Homo sapiens: one gene and its partners. The protein of the gene in region 1 purifies or fractionates together with the protein of each later gene. This does not show direct contact. Each region holds a gene or a part of one and is shown on either strand. Other genes may lie near its edges.

Evidence for each region.
Region 2: the proteins of ARHGAP29 (region 1) and RRP15 fractionate together in Homo sapiens (co-fractionation; one large-scale study listed by BioGRID). This does not show direct contact.
Region 3: the proteins of ARHGAP29 (region 1) and CD244 purify together in Homo sapiens (co-immunoprecipitation; one large-scale study listed by IntAct). This does not show direct contact.
Region 4: the proteins of ARHGAP29 (region 1) and SYT1 purify together in Homo sapiens (co-immunoprecipitation; one large-scale study listed by IntAct). This does not show direct contact.
Region 5: the proteins of ARHGAP29 (region 1) and CCNT1 purify together in Homo sapiens (affinity purification with mass spectrometry, with the first as the bait; one large-scale study listed by BioGRID). This does not show direct contact.
Region 6: the proteins of ARHGAP29 (region 1) and CBS purify together in Homo sapiens (affinity purification with mass spectrometry, with the first as the bait; one large-scale study listed by BioGRID). This does not show direct contact.
Region 7: the proteins of ARHGAP29 (region 1) and FIP1L1 purify together in Homo sapiens (affinity purification with mass spectrometry; one large-scale study listed by BioGRID and IntAct). This does not show direct contact.

Annotation. Positions count from the first base shown.
Region 1 is NC_000001.11:94,175,085-94,178,584, forward strand, and holds part of ARHGAP29 (rho GTPase-activating protein 29), read right to left. Parts: intron 3,084-3,500; coding exon 2,768-3,083; intron 2,637-2,767; coding exon 2,528-2,636; intron 1-2,527. UniProt on the Homo sapiens protein: GTPase activator for the Rho-type GTPases by converting them to an inactive GDP-bound state. Has strong activity toward RHOA, and weaker activity toward RAC1 and CDC42. May act as a specific effector of RAP2A to regulate Rho.
Region 2 is NC_000001.11:218,302,293-218,305,792, reverse strand, and holds part of RRP15 (RRP15-like protein), read right to left. Parts: coding exon of another isoform or gene 3,500-3,500; coding exon 3,234-3,499; intron 766-3,233; coding exon 668-765; intron 1-667.
Region 3 is NC_000001.11:160,842,388-160,845,887, forward strand, and holds part of CD244 (natural killer cell receptor 2B4 isoform 1 precursor), read right to left. Parts: intron 1-3,500. UniProt on the Homo sapiens protein: Heterophilic receptor of the signaling lymphocytic activation molecule (SLAM) family; its ligand is CD48.
Region 4 is NC_000012.12:79,280,774-79,284,273, reverse strand, and holds part of SYT1 (synaptotagmin-1), read right to left. Parts: intron 1-3,500. UniProt on the Homo sapiens protein: Calcium sensor that participates in triggering neurotransmitter release at the synapse. May have a regulatory role in the membrane interactions during trafficking of synaptic vesicles at the active zone of the synapse.
Region 5 is NC_000012.12:48,710,208-48,713,707, forward strand, and holds part of CCNT1 (cyclin-T1), read right to left. Parts: intron 2,370-3,500; exon of another isoform or gene 2,044-2,369; coding exon of another isoform or gene 2,041-2,043; intron 1-2,040. UniProt on the Homo sapiens protein: Regulatory subunit of the cyclin-dependent kinase pair (CDK9/cyclin-T1) complex, also called positive transcription elongation factor B (P-TEFb), which facilitates the transition from abortive to productive elongation by phosphorylating the CTD (C-terminal domain) of the large subunit of RNA polymerase II (RNA Pol II).
Region 6 is NC_000021.9:43,069,336-43,072,835, forward strand, and holds part of CBS (cystathionine beta-synthase), read right to left. Parts: intron 2,867-3,500; 5' UTR 2,859-2,866; coding exon 2,650-2,858; intron 1-2,649. UniProt on the Homo sapiens protein: Hydro-lyase catalyzing the first step of the transsulfuration pathway, where the hydroxyl group of L-serine is displaced by L-homocysteine in a beta-replacement reaction to form L-cystathionine, the precursor of L-cysteine.
Region 7 is NC_000004.12:53,380,641-53,384,140, reverse strand, and holds part of FIP1L1 (pre-mRNA 3'-end-processing factor FIP1), read right to left. Parts: intron 1,864-3,500; coding exon 1,806-1,863; intron 369-1,805; coding exon 265-368; intron 1-264.

The DNA of each region.
Region 1 (3,500 bases):
AAAATTAACCTCAGAAAAGTGACACTAATTTACACACCAACCAGATGTAAGTGTGCCCTGAATCCCAAGGATTTTGCCAACTCACTCAATCTGCTTTTCAGTTACACTCAACCCAGTGAGAGCATATGATATTAGATGCCTTAGATGCTCTCCATATCTGATCAACTAATAAAGCATAAAATCCATTCTGTCAAATGAAGGCTGAATGCTTTTAAGTTAAAAAGTGCCATTTTCCCCACCTGCTCCCGGATTTTCTTTCTATAGTCCGAACCCACAGTCCATGTTTTCTCACTTAGAAGCCTCAGTTCCTGCATCTATCCTAAAAAATTCCAATTCCAGGAATGTTCCAGCCCTCCATTCTCCTGCTTTTCTGTTCACTGCTGAAACACATCCACCAACTCTGTGCCTTGACGCCATCCTGACTTTAAGCTACAGTCGGCCCCAAGCACAGCATGCAATCCTTTCTCTGCCACCCAGTCCTTCACCCACATCTCTTAGGCAGTGGTTTGCAGACAGGTGCCCACCAGAGTCACTTTTTGGTCATCGTCTCATCTGAACTTCTTCCACACCTGGGACTGCTGGCCTCTCTTCCCTGGGTTCCAAGGCTCTTTTATTGTTTTGTTTTGTTTTTGTTTTTTGAGACAGAGTCTCACTCTGTCACCCAGGCTGGAGTGCAGTGGCATTATCTTGGCTCACTGCAACCTCTGCCTCCTGGGTTCAGGTGATTCTCTTGCCTCACCCTCCTGAGTAGCTGAGATTACAGGTGCCTGCTACCATGCCCAGATAATTTTTGTATTTTTAATAGAGACAGGGTTTCACCATGTTGGCCAGGCTGGTCCTGAACTCCTGGCTTCAAGATCCGCACACCTCAGACTCCCAAAGTGCCAGGATTACAGGTGTGAGCCACCACACCTGGCCCAAGGCTCTTTTGATTTGCTTTCCCAGGTCCTCCACACATTTATAGAGCATTCTAAGGGACCTGGTTCCTTGCAATTGGACTCTAGGCACCAACATATATTCTTAAATTTCTGAGGGAAAAACTTAGAGCATAATGGAGAAGAGCACAGACTCTGAAGCACAGTTGCCTGGGTCCTGGCTCAGCCCTGCCTGCCACTTCTGCACTGGGCTAGGCAATATCACTGTCCTATGTGTCTTCATCTGCGAAATAAGACTCCTATGTGTATCTATGTTGCTGTGTGATCTAAATGATCTACTAGGAAAAGTGCTTAAAATTATCTTGTATGTAATAAACACTGGAAAGTGACATTTATTATTATTACTGTTCCTAAGAGCTTCATGGGATAGCCACAAAGGTTAGGTTTAGTAATCAGAACTGGGTTCAAATGTATTAAGAGAACAACCTTTGGCATTACTTAGTCTCTTTCAGACGGTTAGTTATGGGTTGAATGAGGATAATGCTATTTACTTTATAGCACAGAACTATTATGAAGATCAAATAGAATCAAACAAATAAGCACAGTGCTTAGCACAGAACAGGCAGGTACCTGGTGAATGTTAGTTCCATTCCTTTTTTTTTTCTTTGAGATGGAGTTTCTCTTGTCACCCTGGCTGGAGTGCAATGGCACGTTCTCGCCTCACTGCAACCTCTGCTTCTCGGGTTCAAGTGATTCTCCTGCCTTAGCCTCCCGAGTAGCTGGGATTACAGGCGCCCACCACCACACCTGGCTAATTTTTTGTACTTTTAGTAGGCGGGGTTTCACCATGTTGGCCAAGCTGGTCTCAAACTCCTGACCTCAGGTGATCTGCCCGCCTTGGCCTCTCAAAGTGCTGGGATTACAGGCGTGAGCCACCATGCCCGGCCCTCCTTTCCTTTTTAGACCCTATGATCACTGATACTTGATTACACATTAAATTTAACATATATGGCTGCAATGTAAAAAACTGGAATTTAGCTATAACAATGTAGAAATGACAATACAAATGGAAGCTTTTCCACCAGCTTAACAACTAGCAATGACAGCAACTAATATTATAAAGAGAAAATAAGTGAATAAAATGATCGCAGTCAAGGAAAGAAAAAAGACATACACATCTCTGTGTTTAATAGGTTAAATGTAGGCCACAGGTAAAAAGCATGTCAAAAAAAAAGTAGGACTCTAAAGTTTTTGAATTTCAGGAGTCTAGTTGACTCTGTATGAGCAGTTAGCTCAATGCACTGAACTACGGAACTGGAAGATACTAACGAATATCACATTGCTCAACACATTTCTACCTTGATTTTAGCTGATGGCAAAACTCAAAAACAAAAACAAAATTCAGAAGGAACACAAAAAACATTATAAACTCCAAGATGTCTTATTATAAGAAAGACTTTTATGAAGAATGACATTCATTTAAATGCAAGATACACTAAAAGGCAACTTTCTCAATGGCTAGCCAAGATTTGTTAACTAATAAAGCTTCATTCTCTGGCTTCCCTCATTGCCCCTCACCTTGGTTTTAATCACGGTTCTACTGGTAAAATTTTAAGCCAGCAAACATATTTTTTTTTTACATGGCTACTCACCACTGAGACATGCATCACATTTTCCTAACGCATTTTGCTTGCGTTCTGATTCCTCAAATGATGTAGCTCGTTCAAAAATTTTGCTTTCACTCTCTGAAGTATGGATATCCTGTTGATGCAAGATAATTTTTAAAATGGAAGAAGTAAAACATAACCTCAAAATAAACAGTTCAAAGATCTTTAACTTATTAACATAAATATTACAAAGTTCTAATATAATTCTATAAAGGTCAAACTCACTTCCTTTGAAGAAAAAAATAGTGACTTCATGGAACGTTCAATGTCTCTTTCTTCTGGTGATAACAGAGGCTTTGGAAAACAGCCTTGATCAACAACACCTATGCTACACATAACATCTTGTGGTTGTAGGGACCCATCGAAGATCTTCTGTGAGTAAGTAATGAGAAACTCTACCAAGCGTGCTTGATTTGAATACTCTGCAAGGGAGGAGATGGTGATAGGAGCAGTTGTGGGCCTTGGCCTAATGAGACTTGGTCCAAATATCACCCCCAAGTTTTTGGAGTTCATCTTGTTTTCTTCTGCATGATCTACTACCCTGCAAAGTAGAACACATAAAGTTGTATGAGATTTTCCTATTAGAGTTCCTTGACTGTAGTTTACTATGGAATAGAGAGGGTGGAGGGAAAATGAGCTGCACAAAAATACTAGGGGGAAAAAGTCTAGGAAAAGGTTATATTTATTTGATTAAAATATTGACCACATGCCAAATAGAGTTTCACAGTTTCACAGTATTGGAATAAATTTCAAGTTAAGTAGAAGGAACTACTATAGTTTTACCAGCAGAAAGAAAAAATACCCCTAAAAACTGCTCCCATCTCAGTATATGGTATATCCTCCCAAGTCCTTATACTGGGAACTTAAACATCATTGTCAGGTGTCTCACTACCCATCTCCAAGTCTAGATGATTCTCCCTTCTGAAGATCTCAGTTCCAACACCATTCCCACTCCTCT
Region 2 (3,500 bases), about 120 Mb from region 1:
AAATAATTTAGGTAACAAGAATTTAAAAGTAATTCTGCTAAATATAACTGCTAGGTTCTTTAGCAGCAGCCCAAATGTTATCTCCTCTGTAATGCCTTCTCAAACTCTCCCAGACAATCTCCTGTTCTATGTTCCCAACACATAGACATAATTCTACTCTCAAAGAGACTGTAATTCCTACAGATGACCAGGCAAGGACCACCTAGCAGCCACCATATCCTGTTTGTCTTTGGACACAGAGGGCATCAAGTAAACGTTTGGTGCCAATGAATAAATAAGCAGAGTAAAAAGATAGCATGAAATAGCTATAATGTGTAATGTATTATGCCATAAATATAATGCAAGATAAAAACCATCATTGAGTGCCACAAATTTAGACAAGCATCATAAGAGAAATGCAGTAAGAGGTCTGATTACACAGTTCTCGTGACTATAAAAACAAGATGATCTGAAATAGGTTCTTACCAAATATACACTTAGCACATTATATTCTTGCTTCACGAGACCTGGAAAATCTTTGGTTGAATTCAGTGTTGAACAGGCAGGCTTAGATATATATCACTTGGCTCTGAGAAGGCTGAGCTTAAGAATCAAATTGGGTCAAAAATAGAACCACTATGATAGCTTTAGTATACTTATTTTTTAAAGGGCAAAAACACTACCTTACCTTGTTGCAATTCTCTGAAGATTTCTCTCTGTCTCTTTGTCTTGGACAACATCTGGCTTTACTCTGCACATCATTTCCCACTCCAGCCTCTTATCACGCTGCGTTATAAATATTGTTATGTGAAAGAATATTAGATATTTCTGAAAGTGCAGCAAACATTGGTATGATACTCTGTGAAAGGGTGAAGGTAATAAATCATTCTGGCTTAGTTTGTCAGGGGCTTTTAAAAAAACACAATGTTAGGGGTTTAGCTTCGAGAGCCTGTGGTTAGCACTCAGCGTGTCATGCGAGAGGCACAAAGTGAGTTTCTGTCAGGCCCTCTGACAGCAGGGGCCTGGAGAGCTGCCAGCATATTCGGCCAGGCAGTACAAGATAGGGTGTGAGGGAGCCACATGCCTGCTCTGCCATCACCAGATCATCAGAGGGAAGCATAAGGAAGAATTCCAAACTACCCTCTTTGAAAATTATAAGTTTATCTTTACTTTCAGAAAATGACTTCCTCAGTCATCAGAATTACTATTAAGAAAATGTATCAGCTTTTAAAAGAACAGCATCGTATCCAGATACTTATACAATGACTATTTTTCTATGCAGAGAATCATTTAAATCCATTTCTCCTCTCGTAGCATATCTGACCAATAGTCTTGCCATATATGGTTTATCAGTTGTAAGCTACAGCAAACTGTACAGAAGCAGAAGGGGAGGTGGGAAATAAGAAAATTCCCTAGGTAACATAATTTAGTTTGAACTTGTCTTTAAATAGTATCCTGGTCCCAGGAATCTGATTTGATACATTGCATGTTCATGTCTCCTTCTCAGGCCAACATTTAACCAAATATCAAATATAATGATATAATGCATTAATCAATGAATGCTGGCAAGCATCAAAACCAGTAATAAAGACAACGTTTTTATTAAAATTTCTTTTTTTATCTATGCCTTTACTCTTCTATTTCTCATTTTGTATTAATGAAAGTGTCTAATCACAGTAAAACCAAATTCTTGCGCTCACTATAAAGATTAGCCTGATAGCTTTCTAAAGTAATAGATTATTCTCCTAACCAGACAATTCATTTTAGTGGTCATGAAATTCACTGTCAGATTATGACAGGAATTTTTTTTTAAAATCTTACTTTTAAGTTTGAAACAGTCAATTCTTAATTATATTCCGTACTCAAAGGATAATATGTATGCTTAATCCTGAAACATTCTTAACTCTGAAATTTGTTTTTGTATTTATGATTAGAAATAAGTAGCTGATATATTGGAAAACCATAATAGTTAAATTAGGAAATAATAATTTACATATTCTCTTCTAAGAAATACACACAAAGAGCATTTGTAGCTGCCATGTCTTGCTTCTGGTATCAATACATGTGCTTTCATGCATTATGGAGACAGTATCATCTCTAGCACTCAAAGCTTTGGCCTAGAGCAGAGTTACAGACTCATTCCTCTTGGCTTCAAAATGTTCTTACCCTCACTAGAACTCTGAGACCAGAGGAAATCAAAGATTCTGATATTTTTGAAGCCTCTTCTAGCATTTGCCAGATAATAAACAAAGATTCAAATTTTCAGTTGAAAAGCTATCCATAAGATTTAAAGACAAAACTTACCTTAAATAAAGTACAATAAGAATATTGAATTAATAATAGAGTATGCTGTGTTTCTAAGAGCAATACTTAAAAATTTCCACCTTTCACACAGAGCAACCAGTATTAAGAACAAAGAAAACATTCATCTTGAAACAAGAAAAGGAGATGGTAAACATAAAAGGAAATATATGTCAGTTCAAACCTATGTTTCTTTCATTTTTACCTATGAAGTGACTTTGGGAATTAGTACTTCTATGCTGCCAGTACATTTGTAGAAAGTTATTTTTCTTTAATTAAAAAACATGCTTAATTTAGTAACCAAGTATTTTAGACAGAGATCATCAAGTACAGGTGATATGAAAGCCTTATCATGGATTTTTAGCTTTTATAATAAACCACAAATTTATGTACAACTTTTGGCCTTTAATTAATAGATTATACCTAGTCTAACAACTATCATCAGTAGTTCAACAAAAGCATAATGAATTCAAATTTATCCAACACTGATTTGTATCTAACACTGAAATAATCCGTTTTCAGAACTACAACCAATCCTTGAGTTACGACATTGTCACAGATTCCTATTGTAAAATAAGTTTTGGCAAAAAAAAAAAGTAACTAACATGCTTCTTAGTTCACAACCTAATAAAGTCAGCAAACAGACAGCTAAAACAAATAAAATAGGCTCAGGAATCACTACCATGTGTATAATTACTTGATTTTAAAAAGATGTTTCCTCAGCGTTTACATTTCTATTACTTTGCCTTTGCATAGATGATTAAAAAGTGAACATGCTCAATGGAATAATTTAGACTAAATTCCTAAACATAACCTTAGTTATCCACCTTCACATAAAAAACAAGTTAAAAACTGGAACGTTAATTGGTCAAACACTGCAAGAAACAGTTCGGTCAAGATAAGAGCTAGCCTAGACAAACAATCTAATCTACAAGAGAACTGGTGGAACATACCTGTTTTATTTTCTCTAGTCTTTCTTGCTTTAACTTTTCTTTTTCCTTTTCCAGCTTCTTATTTTTGACCAGAATAGTAGGTTTACTTTCAGGAGTTTTCTTGTTGAGGACTTTAGCCATAGCATCTGCCCAGCCCATATTAGTCCCAACACTTGATTCTCCATCATTTTCATTTTCTTTGTCACAGGGCTCAGCATCACCCTCACTGTCAGCTTCTATTGCGTCATCATCAGAATAAAAGTGGTCCTTTTCCGATCCACAGCTTCC
Region 3 (3,500 bases), about 67 Mb from region 1:
GCACAGGTGCTAGGGAGCTTATTTGTTTACTCTTTGTAAAGACAGCAGTTTGGCTTGAGAGGATAAATTCTTAACCATGATGCTATAAATACCACATCTAAGGTGACTCCCTCCAAGCAGTGCTGAGGCAACTACTAATGGCAAGTAGTGACTGTTGGAAATTCTGAATGGTCAGGCCCAGGAAGACTAACCGTCCAAGCTGAACTCATGGCCCCTCAACCATCCTCTCACAGAGCTGAATACATAATCCTCTCTCGTGGCACTTGGTTCATTGGATTTTGGTCATTACTTATTGATGTTTGCCAGTTTTTCAGTGATCAGAAAGTCTCCACAAAAATTTCTCCCTAGAAAACAATTTTAAAAATAAAACTACACTTCCCAGGCAGATCCCAGCACTTGCCTCTCAAAGAATCAAGATGAAACCTAATGAATATGGGGGTGTGACAACCTAGAGCAATTCTGTGCAGTCAGTGTACAAAACTGGAAGTTCCTACAGCCATTTTTAGTAATAAAGCTATGTGGCATGGCCCAGCAGGTGCAGGAAATTAAAAAGTCTCTCTGGGTGAGTTGGGGAGGCTCAGGGAGGATTTGGAAGAGAAAATAAGAGATGGGGAGAGTTTTACAAGTGGCTCCGTTAAAATGGAGGCTATTAAGAAGAGAGCAATTGAGACAGAGGGGTTTTTATATGTCCAGTGCATTATGAATGCAGTCTCTCCAAGCCACAGCTTCACCCTGGCATTTTCTCAAGAGACTAAGTAAATAATTAAAGGACTTGTAATACTATTTGTTTGATGAAATATGTTTCTTTGATCTTGATGCTCCTAAGACTAAAACACATAGGTTCCCATTTATATTTATATGACTTGTACTGGCTCTGCCCATTAGCAAACCAAAAGCTTCTCAAAAGCAGAGACTGTGCTGTGCATCTCTGTGTCTCTGTCTCCTACGATCCTAGCACTATTTATAAGAACAAGTCAACCTACCAAATATTGCACAAAGACCCTGAGAACAAAGGTGAATGGAAAAAATCATTACTAAACCTACAAGGAGGACATATACTGTCTTCATCAATTATTCAGTCCTTACTGAGTCCCACTGCAATCCAGCCCCTGAAGAGGCAGGGCCTCTTCATGTATAAGGCATGATTCCTGACTCCAGAGAGTTTGTGATCTGGAAACAGAACACTTTCATTCTACAGCATCCCCTTAATTGTTGAGATAAAAAATCATCGAAGGAATTCTAATTATGTAATGAAAATCCAGGTTAAGACATGCTAACCAATCCTCCCACTAAAAATAGCTAGAAGAAAAATGAACAACATGTAAAAGCACATTGTTAAAGTTATCAGAGAGTTTATAAAGCAGTGAAAAATTATGGGGCCAATATCTGGAAGAAGGAAATTCAGAGAGGTGAGATCAGCATTTCTGACTGTTGTTCCCTGGAGGCATCTTCTGATTCCATAAATGGCAGCTAAAAGGCTGAGAAGCTGAGCAGAGCTCACAATAAAACTCAAGGAACTAAGAGAACATGAAGTTCACGTCCCTCCTATTAGAAAGCGGGTATACATAAAATCCATCAGTGTTGAGGTTGGTACCACAGAGGGCTATACCCAAAGAGTAAGAGTGAACGAGAAATGAACAGCCCTCACAGGAACTGAAGCTCAATTTTGAATCATCACAACCCTGGATTGAACTAATGATCTGGAATCTCTGGTAGCCCTAACCTGGCTGCCAACTAGAGGCAAATATAAGTTATGACTAGAGGAAAATAACATCAACCAGAGCATTAAATTATTCCTAGAATGTTTCATACACAATATCCAAAGTGAAGTATAAGAAAAGGAAACATCTCCAAAAACCAACAGAAGAATAGAGACAACAGAAACCAACAAACAGGGCATCTACATAATAGAGTTGTCAGTCATAAACTTTAAAGTAATCATGTCTAATATGTTCAAGGAAATAAAACATAAGTTTAAGAATTTCAGCAGAGAACTAGCGTGATAGAATGCAAAAATACCATGTCCTTGCAATGTGACTTTACAGCTCCTTCTGTTATCAAGAAATGGGGTTCATTTCCCTGTCTCTTGGAACTGGGCTGGTCTTCATGATGAAACGCAGCAAAAATGATGTTCTGCTAGTTCTAAGCCTAGATCTGAAAAGGCATTGCACATTTCTACTTGTTCTCTTGGAACCTCATCTGGCTGACCTGTGAACAAGCCTAAAATAGCCTGCTGGAGAATAAGATATCACATGATACAGAGATAAGCCAACACAGCTAAGGCCATTCTAAATCAGCTAGCCCTGGCCTGGTGCGGTGGCTCATGCCCGTAATTCCAGCACTTTGGGAGGCCAAGGCCGGCAGATCACTCAAGGTCGGGAGTTCGAGACCACCCTGGCCAACATGGTAAAACCTCGTCTCTACTAACGATACAAAAATTAGCCAGACATGGTGGCACACACTTGTAACCCCAGCTACTTGGGAGTCTGAGGCACGAGAACTGCTTGAACCCGGGAGATGGAGCTTGCAGTGAGCCGAGATATCATGCCACTGCACTCTAGCCTGCATGACAGAGCAAGACCTAATCTCAAAAAACAATAAAAAATAAATAAATGAATCAGCCACCCGTGGCCAGTCTGGCAGCTGACCACACATGCATGACTGATGCAAGAGGAAACCAAAAGAACCACCTAGCTGAGCCCAGCCCAAATTGCCAACTAGCAGAATCACTAACTAAATAGGTAGTTGTTTTAAACTACTGGATTTTGGAGTAGGTCATTATGCAGCAATAGTTACCTGAAATTGGATTTTTTTTAAAGAATTCAATGAAAATTACAGAAATAAAATGTAAAATAACTGTAAAACAAACTCAATTGAAAGGTTAAAAAGGCCATTTAGATGCCATTGAAAAGAGAATTAGAAAACTGTTATAAAATATCCAGAGTGAAGTAAAGAAAAACAAAAGGATAAAAATACACAAGAAGGAGTGTAAAAGATATTTGAGATATAGCAAAAACAAAACAAAACCCCTAAACTAAGTGTAATTGGAAAGCAAGGAGACGAGAGAGGAAAGAGGAACTAAGCAAAAGAGATAAAAGATAAGAATTTCCCAAAACTGACAAAAGCCATCAAGATAGATTTGTAAAATGTGTTACAAACCCCAAGCAAGATCAAAACAAACCGACAAGCTGGGCACGGTGGCTCACGCCTGTAATCCCAGCACTTTGGGAGGCCCAGGTGGATGGATCACCTGACGTCAGGAGTTTGAGACCAGCCTGGCCAATATGACAAAATCCCATCTCTGCTAAAAATGCAAAAATTAGCCAAGTATGGTGGTGCACACCTGTAATCCCAGCTACTTGGGAGGCTGAGGCAGGAGAATCACTTGAATCCAGGAGGTGGAGGTTGCAGTGAGCCGAGATCACGCCACTGCACTCCAACCTGGGCAACAAGAGTGAAACTCTGTCTCAAAAAAAAAAAAAGAAAAAAAACAAACCAAT
Region 4 (3,500 bases), on another chromosome or scaffold:
AAAGTTAATATATTTTCTTATTTGGTATGCCTTACACCATGTGCTTATAAAAAATAAGGTGACATGGAAACATTTATGATTTCAGTTAGATTGGAAGGGAAGTATTCATAATCCAAATCACAGCTATTGAGATTAATCAGAAGTAATTAGATTTGTCTGTTGTAATAAAAAAAAAAGATACTGGGCACTGAAATGATAAGAAAAAGCCAAATAAACATTACTAGAACCAATGATTGCTGAACACCAGTCAGGAATACTTTGATAAAGTAAAAACACTTAAAAATTAACCTCTCTTCAAAATTGAGAAAATCTACTCTCTTTGCTTTTCCTCTGCATTTAGTATCATTGTGCAGAATACTTACTATGCATAATATTCTGGCTTATGACTGGATACTAGATGTTAACCTAAGGACATAAAACTACAACTTTTGAAATTGTGTTTTCTACCAAAGAAATACTTATGTGACAGTTACAGATAAACCCACACCTAAAGAAGTTTTCTTCCAGTTCTCTAAATTTATTAAACAAGGTAAAGATTACATAAAAAGTAAATTATTTTATGTAACCAATGATATCATTCATAATACTTCATTTAAAAGCATCTATCTCCATTGATTTAGTTAAAATCCTGTCATGCATGAACAAGAGAGTGTATGTATTCATTGCGGGAAAGACAGCATTCATAATGACCCTTCATTTTGAACCTCATAAATTATTCTCCCAGTTGGACTTGTGTGGTGATAGTCGCTCAGAGAGCTACATAAAAGTCTCTTAAATTGTACAAGACAAGACAAAGATGATTTGACAAGTTCACAAAAAGAAAATAGTGAAAGCAAAGGAACATCATTTAATCAAAGGGAGTTAAAGAGCTAGGAACATGAGATTACAGGAAGAAATTTGAAATAATGCAACTTGAAAGTAATTTATAACCACTGAAAAACTTTTGTTTTATGACTTTTATTTCTTAAAGCACTGCTGTCTTTTAGATTTGCCTTCAGTTGATCTTCTGAATAACTTTAAGTTGGAATATGCTGTATTAAATATAATGAAATTAACAGAATTTTCTTCACAATGTATTGGCACCTTTAGATAGACAAAATAAAAAATGCTTAACGTTATCATTTTGTATAGCTATAGGATAGCTTCACTCATTAGTCATATATCATGTAAAGAAACAGCCATTTTTAGTAAATAGAGTTACTTGGATGCTCATGTTAAAATTTTATTTAATTGTGTAGAGTAACCAAATATTTAAAATTTGGCAAGTTTACTAAGAAACAACACCCACAGTATTATTCATCTGCAGTATTTGTAGAAACATGTTTCAATATTGGTCAGCAAATCTTGTGGAATATATTTTGGATCAGGCTAAAAGTTTATTGAAGACCTACCTACCTGTTATGGCCCAGCAATTTGGCTACAGTTATAGATACATTATCTTATTTATTCTTTGCAGCAGTTTTGTTCAGTATCACTGCAGTTTTACAGAGGAAAAACTATAGGTTGAATAGTTTGAGAAATTCAAATTTATCTTTAGGTCGTTAGGTTAAAAATGTGAATATTAAAAATGTATACGGAGAAAAAATTTGTATCTAGCTTTAAAGTCTCTTTAATAGAACATATTAAATTAAATAATTCAGTGAAGCAAATAACAGCATAAAATGCAGTGATTTTTTAAATACAAAATAAGAGTTTCAGTCAAAAATAGTCTCATCAAAATACTGCTACAGGCAGAAAACTATCAGTTTATTGTTATTGCTACCCAACTACCATTACATGGAAGTTTATAATAACAATTTTAACATTCAACTTAAAGGCCTTTCAGCAGAAAATAATTGACTAGTATAAAAACTCTATTAAAAATTTTATTTTCATTTTCTAGTTAATGAATCAATCTCACATATATTATCTGACCCAAAGGTAAATTGATACATAATAATTAAGTACAAGGCAAATTAATTTAAAACTGCTTCTGATGTTTTAATTAATACCTTGTGGTAGACATGATAATGGCCCCTCCAAGATGACCACATCCTATTTTCTGGAAGCTGTGAATACCTTACCCTGCCTGGTAAGAGGGACTTTGCAAGTGTGATTAGATTAAGGATCTTGAGATGGGGAAATTATCCTGAATTATCTGAGTGTAGACTCAATGCAATTACCAGAGTTTTTATAAGTGAAAGAGGCAGGCAGAAATGTCAGAGTCCAAGAGAGAGAGGGAGATTTGAAGAGTCTCTGTTGCTGGTTTTGTAGATAAAGAAAGGGACCATGAGCCAAGGAATGCAGGTGCCTCTTGAAGCTGGAAAAGGCAGGGAAATGGATTCTCCCCTACACCTTCAAGAGAGAATTGGCCCTGCTGACGCCTTGATTTCAGCTCAGTGAAACCAATTTCAGATTTCTGACCTCCAGAATGGGAAAATAATAAATGTGTGTGGCTTTTATGACAGTAAACTTGGAATAATTCATTATAGCAACAATAGGAACTCAAGTGATACAAAGAAGACCTCAAGAGATTTGTAATATATGCTGTATATAGGTAACTATACATTAGTAATATTCATGTGGGCTAGTCATGTATTTTCTGCTGTCTTTTCATTTATTTATTTATTTTAGTAGCTCTAGGGGTTTGGTTAAATGGATGAATTGTATAGTAGTAACGTCTGGGCTTTTAGTGTACCCATCACCTGAATGGTGTACATTGTATCCAATAGGTAATATTTAATCTCTCATCCCCTTCCCACTTTTGAGTCTCCAGTGTTCATTATACCATTCTATATGCCCATGCATACCCATAGCTTAGCTTTCACTTATAAGTGAGAATATGCAGTTTTTGGTTTTCTGTTTCTGAGTTACTTCACTTAGGATAATAGCCTCCAATTCTAACCAAGTTGCTGCAAAAAGACATTATTTTGTTCTTTTATTATAACTGAGTAGTATTCCATGATCTATCTATCTATATCTATCTATATCTCTATATCCGTATCTGACATTTTCTTTATCCACTCATCCATTGATGAGCACTTAGGTTGATTCCATACCTCTGCGTTTGTGAATTGTGCTGCAATAAACATATAAGTGCAGGTGTCTTTTTGATATAATGGCTTCTTTTTCTTTGGGTAGATATCCATTAGTGGGATTGCTGGATCAAATGGTAGAACTGTTTTTAGTTCTTTGAGAACTCTCCATACTGTTCTGCATAGAAGTTGTACTAATTTACCTAATACATCAACAGTGAGTAAGAGTTCCATTTTCACAGCATCCATGCCAGTATCTATTTTTTTTTTTTTTACTTTTTATTAATGGCCATTCTGACTGTAAGGTGGTATCTCATTTTGGTTTTAATTTTTATTTCTCTGATGATTAGTGATGTGGAGCATTTTTTTCATATGTTTGTTGGCCACTTGTATGGCTTCTTTTGAAAAATCTCTCTTCACATATTCCCACTTTTTATGGGATTATTATCTTTTTTTCTTGCTGATTTGAGGTCCCTGTGGATCTTG
Region 5 (3,500 bases), on another chromosome or scaffold:
TAAGAAAAACACACACACACATACAAAAATGCCTGAGGACTTGACAGGATATATAACATATCAATGCCACATTGATTATTAGGCCACATTTAATGTATTAAGTCCTCTCACATTTAAATTTGGATTCATCACAGCTAAACTTAGAATTAGTATGTTAAAAGGTGATATTAAATCTGGAATCTGTTGATTCCAAAATGTGCCTAAAATCAATCCTCTAAAAAGGATCAACAACTTCAAATTAATCAGTGGATTTTGAAAAAGGTCATGACATCCAAAAGAATATCCCTATACTAGCCAGGTGCAGTGGCCCATGCCTGCAATCCCAGCACTTTGGGAGACTGAGGTGGGAAGACAGCTTGAGGCCAGGAGTTTGAGACCAGCCTGGGCAACAGAGCGAGATCTCCCGTCTCTAAAAAATAAATATATATAAAAATGTTTGAAAGAATATCTCTATATTGGATAACTACCAGATCATCCATTCATTCAATAAGTTTACTGAAACTGCTTTAGAGAATATACAGAAAAGGGAATCTCTGTCCTTGTTAAGCTTAACAGATAAGAAATAAAAAGATATGGCCTGGCACAGTGGCTCATGGCTATAATTCCAGCACTTGGTAGGCCAAGGCGGGTGGATCGTGAGGTCAGGAATTCAAGACCAGGCTGGCCAAGATGGTGAAACCCCGTCTCTACTAAAAATACAAAAATCAGCTGGGTGTGGTGGCAGGCGCCTGTAATCCCAGCTACTCGGGAGGCTGAGACAGGAGAATTGCTGGAACCCAGGAGGCGGAGGTTGCAGTGAGCTGAGATCGCGCAGCCACTGCACTCCAGCCTGGGGGAAAGAGAGAGATTCCAGGTCTCAAAAAAATAAAAAAAGATATAACTTAAAAGATAAGGCTGGACGCGGTGGCTCACACCTGTAATCCCAGCACTCTGGAAGGATGAGGCGGGCAGATCATAAGGTCAACAGTTGAAGCCAAGCCTGGCCAACATAGTGAAACCCTGTCTATACTAAAAATACAAAAATTAGCTGGGTGTGGTGGCGGGTGCCTGTAGTCCCAGCTACTTGGGAGGTTGAGACAGGAGAATCGCTTGAACCTGGGAGGTGGAGGTTGCAGTGAGCTCAGATGGCGCCATTGCACTCCAGCCTGGGTGACAGAGTGAGACTCCATCTCAAAAATAAATAAATAAATATATAAATAAATAAAAGTTAAAAGGAGGGGAAAATATATATTAACCTATACATGAAGAGTGGACAAACTGATTTGAGAGTTTCTTTTTTTGATTTGAGATTCACTTCACCCCAAATTTCAAGTCTTTATCATAATAAAAGGGAAGAATTATAGAAAACCTTCAGAACTGGCAAAATGGCTAGGAATTTCCTCTTCAAATTTCACTTTTTAACTACTCACTACCTTCTATTCTGGTGCTATCAGATAGCCTCGTTAAATGCTAACAGGCTTCTCTCTCTTTTAATAAGAAGGATATACTCCTTGCAATCAGAGCCAGAGCAAAGCTCCAGGGCATGACTAGAGGTACAGGGGCTAAGGGCAGAAGAAAGCCAACCTGGGTGGATCATCAGCAAAAATCTTTTTCTTTTTGTTTTGAGACGGAGTCTCATTCTGTCGCCCAGGCTGGAGTGCAGTGGCACGATCTCGGCTCACTGCAAGCTCCACCTCCTGGGTTCATGCCATTCTCCTGTCTCAGCCTCCCGAGTAGCTGGGACTACAGGCGCCCACCGCCACGCCCGGCTAATTTTTTTTGTATTTTTAGTAGAGACGGGGTTTCACCATGTTAGCCAGGATGGTCTTGATCTGCTGACCTCGTGATCCGCCCATCTTGGCCTCCCAAAGTGCTGGGATTACAGGCGTTGAGCCACGGCACCTGGCCCACAAAAATCTTAATTCACAAATCCAAAAAGTTTCCTGTGCAGTTACTCCCAATACTGTTTCTGCCAGTTTCTTACATTTCAGGAGCTATGTCTAGCTTCATAAACTCTCTTTCTACAGCATTAAAAAAGTAATAATAAATCTGAAAACCCACCATTCTAAGGATACGAAATAAGCATCCTCAAAAGCATAATCTTTTTCTTTTTGAGATGGAGTTTCGCTCTTGTTGCCTAGGCTGAAGTGCAATAGCGATCTCGGCTCACCACAACCTCGGCCTCCCCAGTTCAAGTGATTGCCTCAGCCTCCTGAGTAGCTGGGATTACAGGCATGAAACTCCACGCCTGGCTAATTTTTGTATTAGTAGAGATGGGGTTTCTCCATGTTGGTCTCAAACTCCCGACCTCAGGTGATCCGCCCGCCTCAGCCTCCTAAAGTTGTGGGATTATAGGCTTAAGCCACCGTGCCCAGCAGGATAATCTTTTCCTTAAAAAAAAAAAAAAATAAAAAAAAAAAAAAAAAAAAAAAGCAGGGAAATACTTGACTCACAAATCCATTTGAAGTATACAGCCGGTGCAGTGGCTCACACCTGTAATCCCAACACTTTGGGAGGCTGAGGCGGGCAGATCACCTGAGGTCAGGAGTTCAAAACCAGCCTGGCCAACGTGGTGAAACCTCGTCTCTACTAAAAATACAAAAATTAGCCAGGTGTGGTGGCACATGCATGTAATCCCAGCTACTTGGGAGGCTGAGGAAAGAGGATTGCTTGAATCTGCGAGGCGGAGGTTGCAAAGGGCCAAGATCGTGCCATTGCACTCCATCCTGGGCAACAAGAGCGAAACTCCATCTCAAAAAAAAAAAAATCAATCCATATGAAGTACTCATCAAGTTTATCCCTATTACCTTGGCGTTTTATTAAGTAAATACAGTCCTTCCTAGAACTGGGATATCACTATGCATTCAATTCCAAGTCATTTATAATAATGTTAAATAGGACCATTTCAAATAGCTACACTGAAAAGATCACTATTTATAATTCTGTACAAAAAAATAAAATTTCTTTATTAGTATAATTTTATTCTTCCTGTTCTTTGTAAAATTTTTTTTACCTTTTTTTTTTTTTTTGTAGAAACGGGGTCTCACCGTGTTGCCCAGGCTGGTCTCCAACTCCTGGGCTCAATCAGTCCTCCCACCTGAACCTCCCAAGGTGCTGTGATTATACATAAGAATGAGCCACCATGCATAGCCTATTTTTCATGTTCTTAAAAGTCATTTTCCCAGTTATTATTACATAATGTGCTTTCCCCTCCAACTGCTGACTGGAATTTTATCAAAGGCTTTTGGAAAATCTAAGTAACTTACATTTACTTCTTTTGCTGTGACCATATTTTATAAACTACTTCAAAATTAATGCCAGGAATGGCGGCTCATGACTGTAATCCCAACATTTTAGAAGGCGGAGGCGGAAGGATCCCTTGAACCCTGGAGTTTGAGACCAGGCTGGACAACACAGGGAGACCCCATCTTCACAAAAAAAATTTTAAAAATTACCAGATATGTTGGCAAGCCTGTGGTCCCAGTTACTTGGGAGGCTACGGCAGGAGGACTGCTTGAGCC
Region 6 (3,500 bases), on another chromosome or scaffold:
CTAAATGGCCCTCATGCCCCTGCCATCCTCCCCCAGGGAGATGCTGATGACACCCCCTATCTATCTGCACCAAGCTCACCACATACTCATCTGGGAACACGCATGGCTTACAGCGGTCTCCAGACCCGCAACCCCTCCCTGGGCCTTGCAGCTCCGATGACACCCCGTGGCTAACCCTGGGCCCCCTCTTCAGCACAGTCACCTGCTGAACAGCCAGGGTCCTTGGGTCCTGCCCCCCAGGAGGCGACCCTTAGACCTGGGGTGAACCCAGCTCCCAGAGGTCCTGTGCCATGGAGGGAGTGCCACATTTGCAGGGAGAGCTACCCTGAAGGCCAAAACAGGCGCCAACAAGAGCAGCTGGAATCCAATCGCACCCTTCCCGGGGAGCAGAAGGCAGTCCTGCCAGGTCCCCAAACTGTACAGGGGCCAGGGAGGTTCCCTCAGAAGCAGTTCTCGGCAGAAGGGAACCAGGCTTGGCAGGTGTAGAGAGCCAGGGCCAGGTGGAAAGCCAAGCCCCAGGGTGACAGCGCCGGGGATTAGTTCATTAATTCAGTTCGGGCATCTGGCCAGCCAGGCGGGAAGAGTCCCGCCTCCCTGCAGCAGGTGTGCTGACTCAGCACTGGGCCTCGGTGGCTGTGAAGTTACCTGAGAAGTTTGCAGAGGTGATCAGGGCCAGGCCCAGAGCGCTTAGCAAGAAAAAGGATGTGACTTGCAGGGATAGCCCTGGAGCCCCTTATCTCAAGGACTCCCACTTCCACAGCCCAAGAGGCTCCTGGGAGGACACGCCACTGTCCTAGAATGAACCTCCAACTCCTGACCCACCTCTGCAGCACCTCCCCGCAACGCCACTATTCTCAGGGGCCCTCCGACTGGAGACAAGCGGCGTCGGCTCTGCGTCTCAGGATGGGGGTGTCTTCGGAGGATGAATGAGGCCAGTATGTGAGGTGCAGGTGCAACGCCATTTACAACCTGGAGGGCATCGTCTCCTTCTCATGCCCTAGAGTTAGGAGCTCACGGAGCCCTCAGGAATCGGGCCTGTCTTCCCTGCCCACTCCACCCTCCAGCAGCCACTCCCGACCTCACCGGGCCTCTCACCCACTGCTCTCTTGGGTTTGTCTTGGCAGCAAGAGCCCATCCTCCTGGCTGCCCACACATCTGCTTGGCCTCCTGAGCTCCCAGCACTGAGTATGTTTGACACTCAGACCTTCTGGGTTTGTCCACTGTCACTTCTTTCTTTCTATTGCTGCACTGAGAGTACACCCAGCCACCCCCACCCATTCTGAACTGTAAATCAACAACCATAAACGCTGGTAGTGGTGGACACAAAATAGGAATCATAATCCCAGCACTTTGGGAGGCCGAGGCGAGTGGATCAACTGAGGTCAGGAGTTCAAGACCAGCCTGGACAACATGGTGAAACCCCATCTCTATTAAAAGCATAAAAATCCACCGGGCGTGCTGGCACATGCCTGTAATCCCAGCTACTAGGGAGGCTGAGGTAGGAGAATCGCTTCCCGGGAGGCAGAAGTTGCAGTGAGCTGAGATCGCGCCACTGCACTCCAGCCTGGGTGACAGCGAGACTCTGTCTCAAAAAAAAAAAAAAAAAAAAAGGAATCAAACATCTAAGAAGCACATTCTTTGATCTATTTGTTCTCCTCCAAGATTACACTAAGGAAATAAAGATAATCCTAAGGCTTAGTGAGCTTGATTTCAGTTTCATGCTGGGGTAGGGATTTTTGTTGATTTGTCTTTTCCACTGATAGATCTTCTGCGCCTTGAGCAGGGCACGAAATGCACATGGCGCTGAGGAAAGACTTGTTGGCTAAATGAATGTGTCGTATCTTCTATTGCAGTTATGTAAAATGAGGTAACTGCAAACATCTATCTACCCCGTAGAGGGCTTACAAAATGATGGCTTCTTCACCGAACAGTCTGTGCCACCAGAAAAACAGCCCTTATGGAAAAATATGTAATGCCTACGGGAAGTCTTCATGACCTAGAGTTAACGGAAAAGTGCAGGCTGGGCCGGGCGCGGTGGCTCACACCTGTAATCCCAACACTTGTGGGAGGCCAAGGCAGGCGGATCACTTGAACCTAGGCATTCAAGACCAGCCTGGGTGAAACCCCATCTCCTAAAAATACAAAAATCAGCTGGGTGTGATGGTGGGCACCCATAGTCCCAGCTACTTGGGAGGCTGAGGTGGGAGGATCCCTTAACTGGGGGAGATTGAGGCTGCAGTAAGCCATGATTGCACCACTGCACTCCAGCTCGTGTCTCAAAAAAATAAAAAATAAATAAATAAGAGAGCGCAGGCAGGATCCTGGTCCCTCACCTCCAGTGAATGTGCACACGCAGCCACAGACCGGGCAAAGCATGTGACCTGGGCACATTTATTTATTTATTCTGGAACTACTTGCTGAGCATCCACTGTCTTGCCAGGCACTGGCCTAGGCGCTGGGCTGCAGCGTAAGGAGGCCTTGGCCTCTCAGAGCCTCATCTACACGGCATGGCCCCACCCCCAGCTCCTCAATCCAGAGTGACTACAGGGGGTTACACCTCATGTCCTCCTGGCTGTGTGGTGTCCAGGTAACAAACTCCTGCCCTCCAGGTTATGGATCAGCCCTCTTGTGATCAAAAGCAGGACTTACGGGGCAGTGTGGTGATGTGGGGACTCGGAGGCAGGCCGGCCCAGCTGCCAGGTGCACCTGCTCGGAGCATCGGGCCGGATCCACAGGGGCTCCTTGGCTTCCTTATCCTCTGGGGACCCCTTCTCCAGGCTCCCCTTCGCCGAGTGTGGCCCTGAGCGGTGGGGGCAGCCTGTGGGCCCCACTTCTGCCTGGGGGGTCTCAGAAGGCATGCTGGGACCTGGCAAAGCAAGGAGAGAGGCGTCGGTTCAGGCTCGGATGCTGTGGGGTTCCAGCGAACCCTGCTGACCCGGCCCCCTCTGGGAGGCGTGCTCTGCTCCCTCAGAGAAGCCCAGGAAGAACTGCACAAAAACACAGGCACCAGCCCTGTGGGCAGCCGCTTGGCCATTTCTCTCCTATAGGCATATACCAAAAAAAATGGAAGCAGACAGTTGCTTGGGCCGGGTGCGGTGGCTCACGCCTCTCATCCCAGCACTTCGGGAGGCTGAGGCAGGAGGACCACTTGAGTCCACGAGGTCAAGACCAGCCTGGGCTCCAGCCCCATCTCTATTTAAAAAATAAAACAACAACAACAAAACAGATGCTTGCACACCCATGCTCACTGCTGCACTATTCACAAGTCAAAACGTGGAGGCAGCCCACGTATCCGCAGACGGATGAACACACACAGTAGGCTCATACACACACTAGAATATTACTCAGCCCTAAGAGAAATGAATTCTGGCACACGCTACAACACGGACGAACCTTCAGGACATTATGCCAAGCGAAATGAGCCAGACACAAAAGGACAAATACTGTGTGATTCCACTTCCACGATGAGGCACCTGGGACTCTCGAACGCCCCTCTATGT
Region 7 (3,500 bases), on another chromosome or scaffold:
CTCTATGCCTGGCCTAGCACTCAATTCTTTTATAAAAACACTTTAAATTCAGCATCAAAAACTGCTGCTTCTATGTACCTTCGCCTAATCAATTAACTGTATTTTAGCAAAGAAGTATATTCATGATGAAACTTTAACAAGTTCTTTTATGTTAAAATAGAAAAATGTAAAAACAATGGACTCAACCACTGAGAGTTTGATATAGGCACACTCTCCTTACTATATAGCATTTACACAATTGTTACTTACTAAAAAATAACTTACCCATACTGTGGTGCTCCCGTTTTAATGTCTCCTATAGTGACATGAACATCATCTTCATCATCATCGCTGTCACTATCACTATCATCTTCGGTCTCAGTCACTTTCTACATGAACATAAACAAATTATAAAATACATTCAGTAATCCATTTCAACATCTAATACTAATAACTAAAAAAAGTAACCACCCTGTTTTTTTTTTTCTTTCTTCTGTCTTGAGACAGACTCTCACTTTGTCGCCCCGGCTTGAGTGCAGTGGCATGATCTCAGCTCACTGCAACCTCCACCTCCCAGGTTCAAGCAATTCTCCGGCCTCAGCCTCTAGAGTAGCTAGGATTACAGGTGCCCGCCACCATGCCCAACTAATTTTTGTATTTTTAGCAGAGACAGGGTTTCACCATGTTGGCCAGGCTGGCCTCGAACTCCTGACCTCAGGTGATCCACCCACCTTGGCCTCCCAAAGTGCTGGAATTACAGGCGTGAGCCACCATGCCCGGCCCCACTCTGTATTTTTTTGAGATACAATTTAAAAGTTACAAGCTTATAATGCTGCCACCTATTTCAACTCATAATTTTGATGTTCTACAGGATAAAAAGGATAAGACTATGAATAAAGAAATGAAATCTTTTTGGCATCATCTCCTTGTGGTAAACAACACCTCATTTTTTTTTTAACTATCATATCTGCCCCTCTTGCAAAAAGATCTAAAGCAACTTACTAAGATACCTACAAGATAAAATTATAAAAAATAAGTATTTGAGAAGTCTTGGCAAAAAAGAATCTAAGAGGAAAACAATTTTAAGATTCACAGTGTCACAAATACAATGTACCAAATCAATTAAAGAATTAAAAAAAAAAACCCCAAAGCATAAGAAGTACCAAATAGTTAAGTAGAAGCTCAGTTATTCTTGGTATTCTTGTATACCTAGAAGAGGCCCTACATGCAAATTCTATATTTGTGAAGATTTTACTTTGGCTCTTAAAGGCTATTTTGTGCTTAATCACATCATAGTAAATAAGTAGATCACATAGGCAAAATACTTTTTTGTATACAACTTCAAACTTCCGGAACAATAACTTCCTTCCTTTTATAGGATTAAAATGCACAAATATTCATAGGACCAATGATATGTTCACCTCACAAAGTATCAATGGCATGCAGGCATGCAGTCAGGGACTGTCACATACATTAAAAAGCAACGTTAAAAAATCGTAACAGTGAAAGGTTGTGGGCTCAAAACTTGCTCTGAAAACCAGGCTCACTATATTCAGTAGATTTATAACCATTCAATTCCTTGAAAGCAATAAACATCAAGCCTTTGCACATACTATTTTCCTCTGCAGTCTTTCTACTATTTCTTTTCCTCATTTTAATTCCTATATATGTTTTTGATGGCACCAGATGAAGTAGGAGATGTAAGAAAGGGCCAGATAACACCTGATACTGAAGGTAATGTAAAATGCCAGCTTGCTTTCTATGTAAACTGTGAAGCTATTGATAAAGATTTGTATCAGTAACTGGATTTCAAAGCCTTATGTTACCGGTTTTGGTACACCATTTTCAGCAGTTTCATCTTCAATTCCAGATGGAGGATTAGCACTACAAACAACAAAAGTAAGTATACATGTCAGGCATTACTTTTCGGAAGTACAGATAGATTATATTAGTATTTCTAAGCTTTAATAAAGCTCCTAAAATTATTGTCTCCACTGGAGACAGTAATGGTAAAATCTGACTGTCTTATTCCGTTATTTCTAGTAACTTGCAGAAGACAAGTACTCAACATTGTAAGTAGAATGCAAATGCCAGGCTGGGCGTGGAGGCTCATGCCTGTAATCCCAGCACTTTGAGAGGCTGAGGTGGGTGGATCACGAGGTCAGGAATTCAAGACCAGCCTGGCCAAGATGGTAAAACCCCGTCTCTACTAAAAATACAAAAAAAAAAAAATTAGCCAGGCATGGTGGCGGGCACCTGTAATCCCAGCTACTCGGAAGGCTGAAGCAGACAATTGCTTGAACCCAGGAGATAGAGGTTGCAGTGAGGCTGCAGTGATCATGCCACTGCACTCTAGCCTGGGCGACAGCGTGAGATGCTGTCTCAAAAAAAAAAAAAAAAAAAAAAAAGAATGCAAATGCCTTCACAGTTTATTAATGATTTATAATTTGATGGTGGGCTATAATTCAAGCTTTTTACACATTTTAAAAATATATGACAAACTTAATCAATTTTAATTATCCTAAATCAATTTGATCTTTACAGTGGCATTTTATAGCACAATCACCAAATAAAGCAAAATGAAAGATAAAAAGTCAAAACATAACTGTTATATTTTCATTGTTCTACTGCTTGCTTCAAGAAAACAAATATGCAGCTATAATTGTTCAGTACATTTACCTCCTGCTGAAATAAGCTTCTAGGTAGCCAGAAGCAAGTCCCATTTGCTTTCTACGTCACAAAACAGTATCCCTTCTTTAGTCAAAACTTGGATAGATATAACACAATTGGAGACTGCAATGCAATGTTTAAGAAAAACAGAGGCTTCAGCAATGAGCCAGTCAGTAGGAAACGGGCAAATTCTAATAGCAGGAACTTTGGTAGAGCAATGCAATGATGTACCAAGCCAGATAGCAGTAGGTCTGGCAGAGTACCTTTCTTCAATAGGCCTACTCTTTTGGAAGTTTTAATTTTCTATCACCATTAAAATGTTAGAAACATGATAAAATTTTAAGCTTTTTCTAGAAAAATAACACTGTAAAGGAAATTGTTTTTTCCCCCATAGGATGAAATCAACTCAACGGCTCCCCAAATGAAGTTGCAGAAAGGAATATAAAGCTATGTTGACAGTGACACTCAGGGAAGGTAGAAGGTTCCCTCCAATAAATTTTAGCAAGTTGTGTATTGCGGAATTAAAATTAAAGAATGTTTGATTAGAAAGTAAGCTTTTAAAATTGTAACCAATAAAAATAAAAATTAATGGGATAAAGATTATCATATAGAAAAGTATATTTGATTGTAAAACTATACCTGTAATTAATTTCTTGACCAACTGAAGGAATGGGTACAAAGAAATATTCAATCACTTTCATAACATAAACTAAAACTAATCTCAACTTTGTGGTTGAGATCAGAATTAGGAACTGAGTTGAATATATAAATTTTAAAATGAAATAACATTTCAGATAATATACCAATGAGTGAAAAGACTATAGGGGATTTTTTGGGTAAGGAAGCTGAAC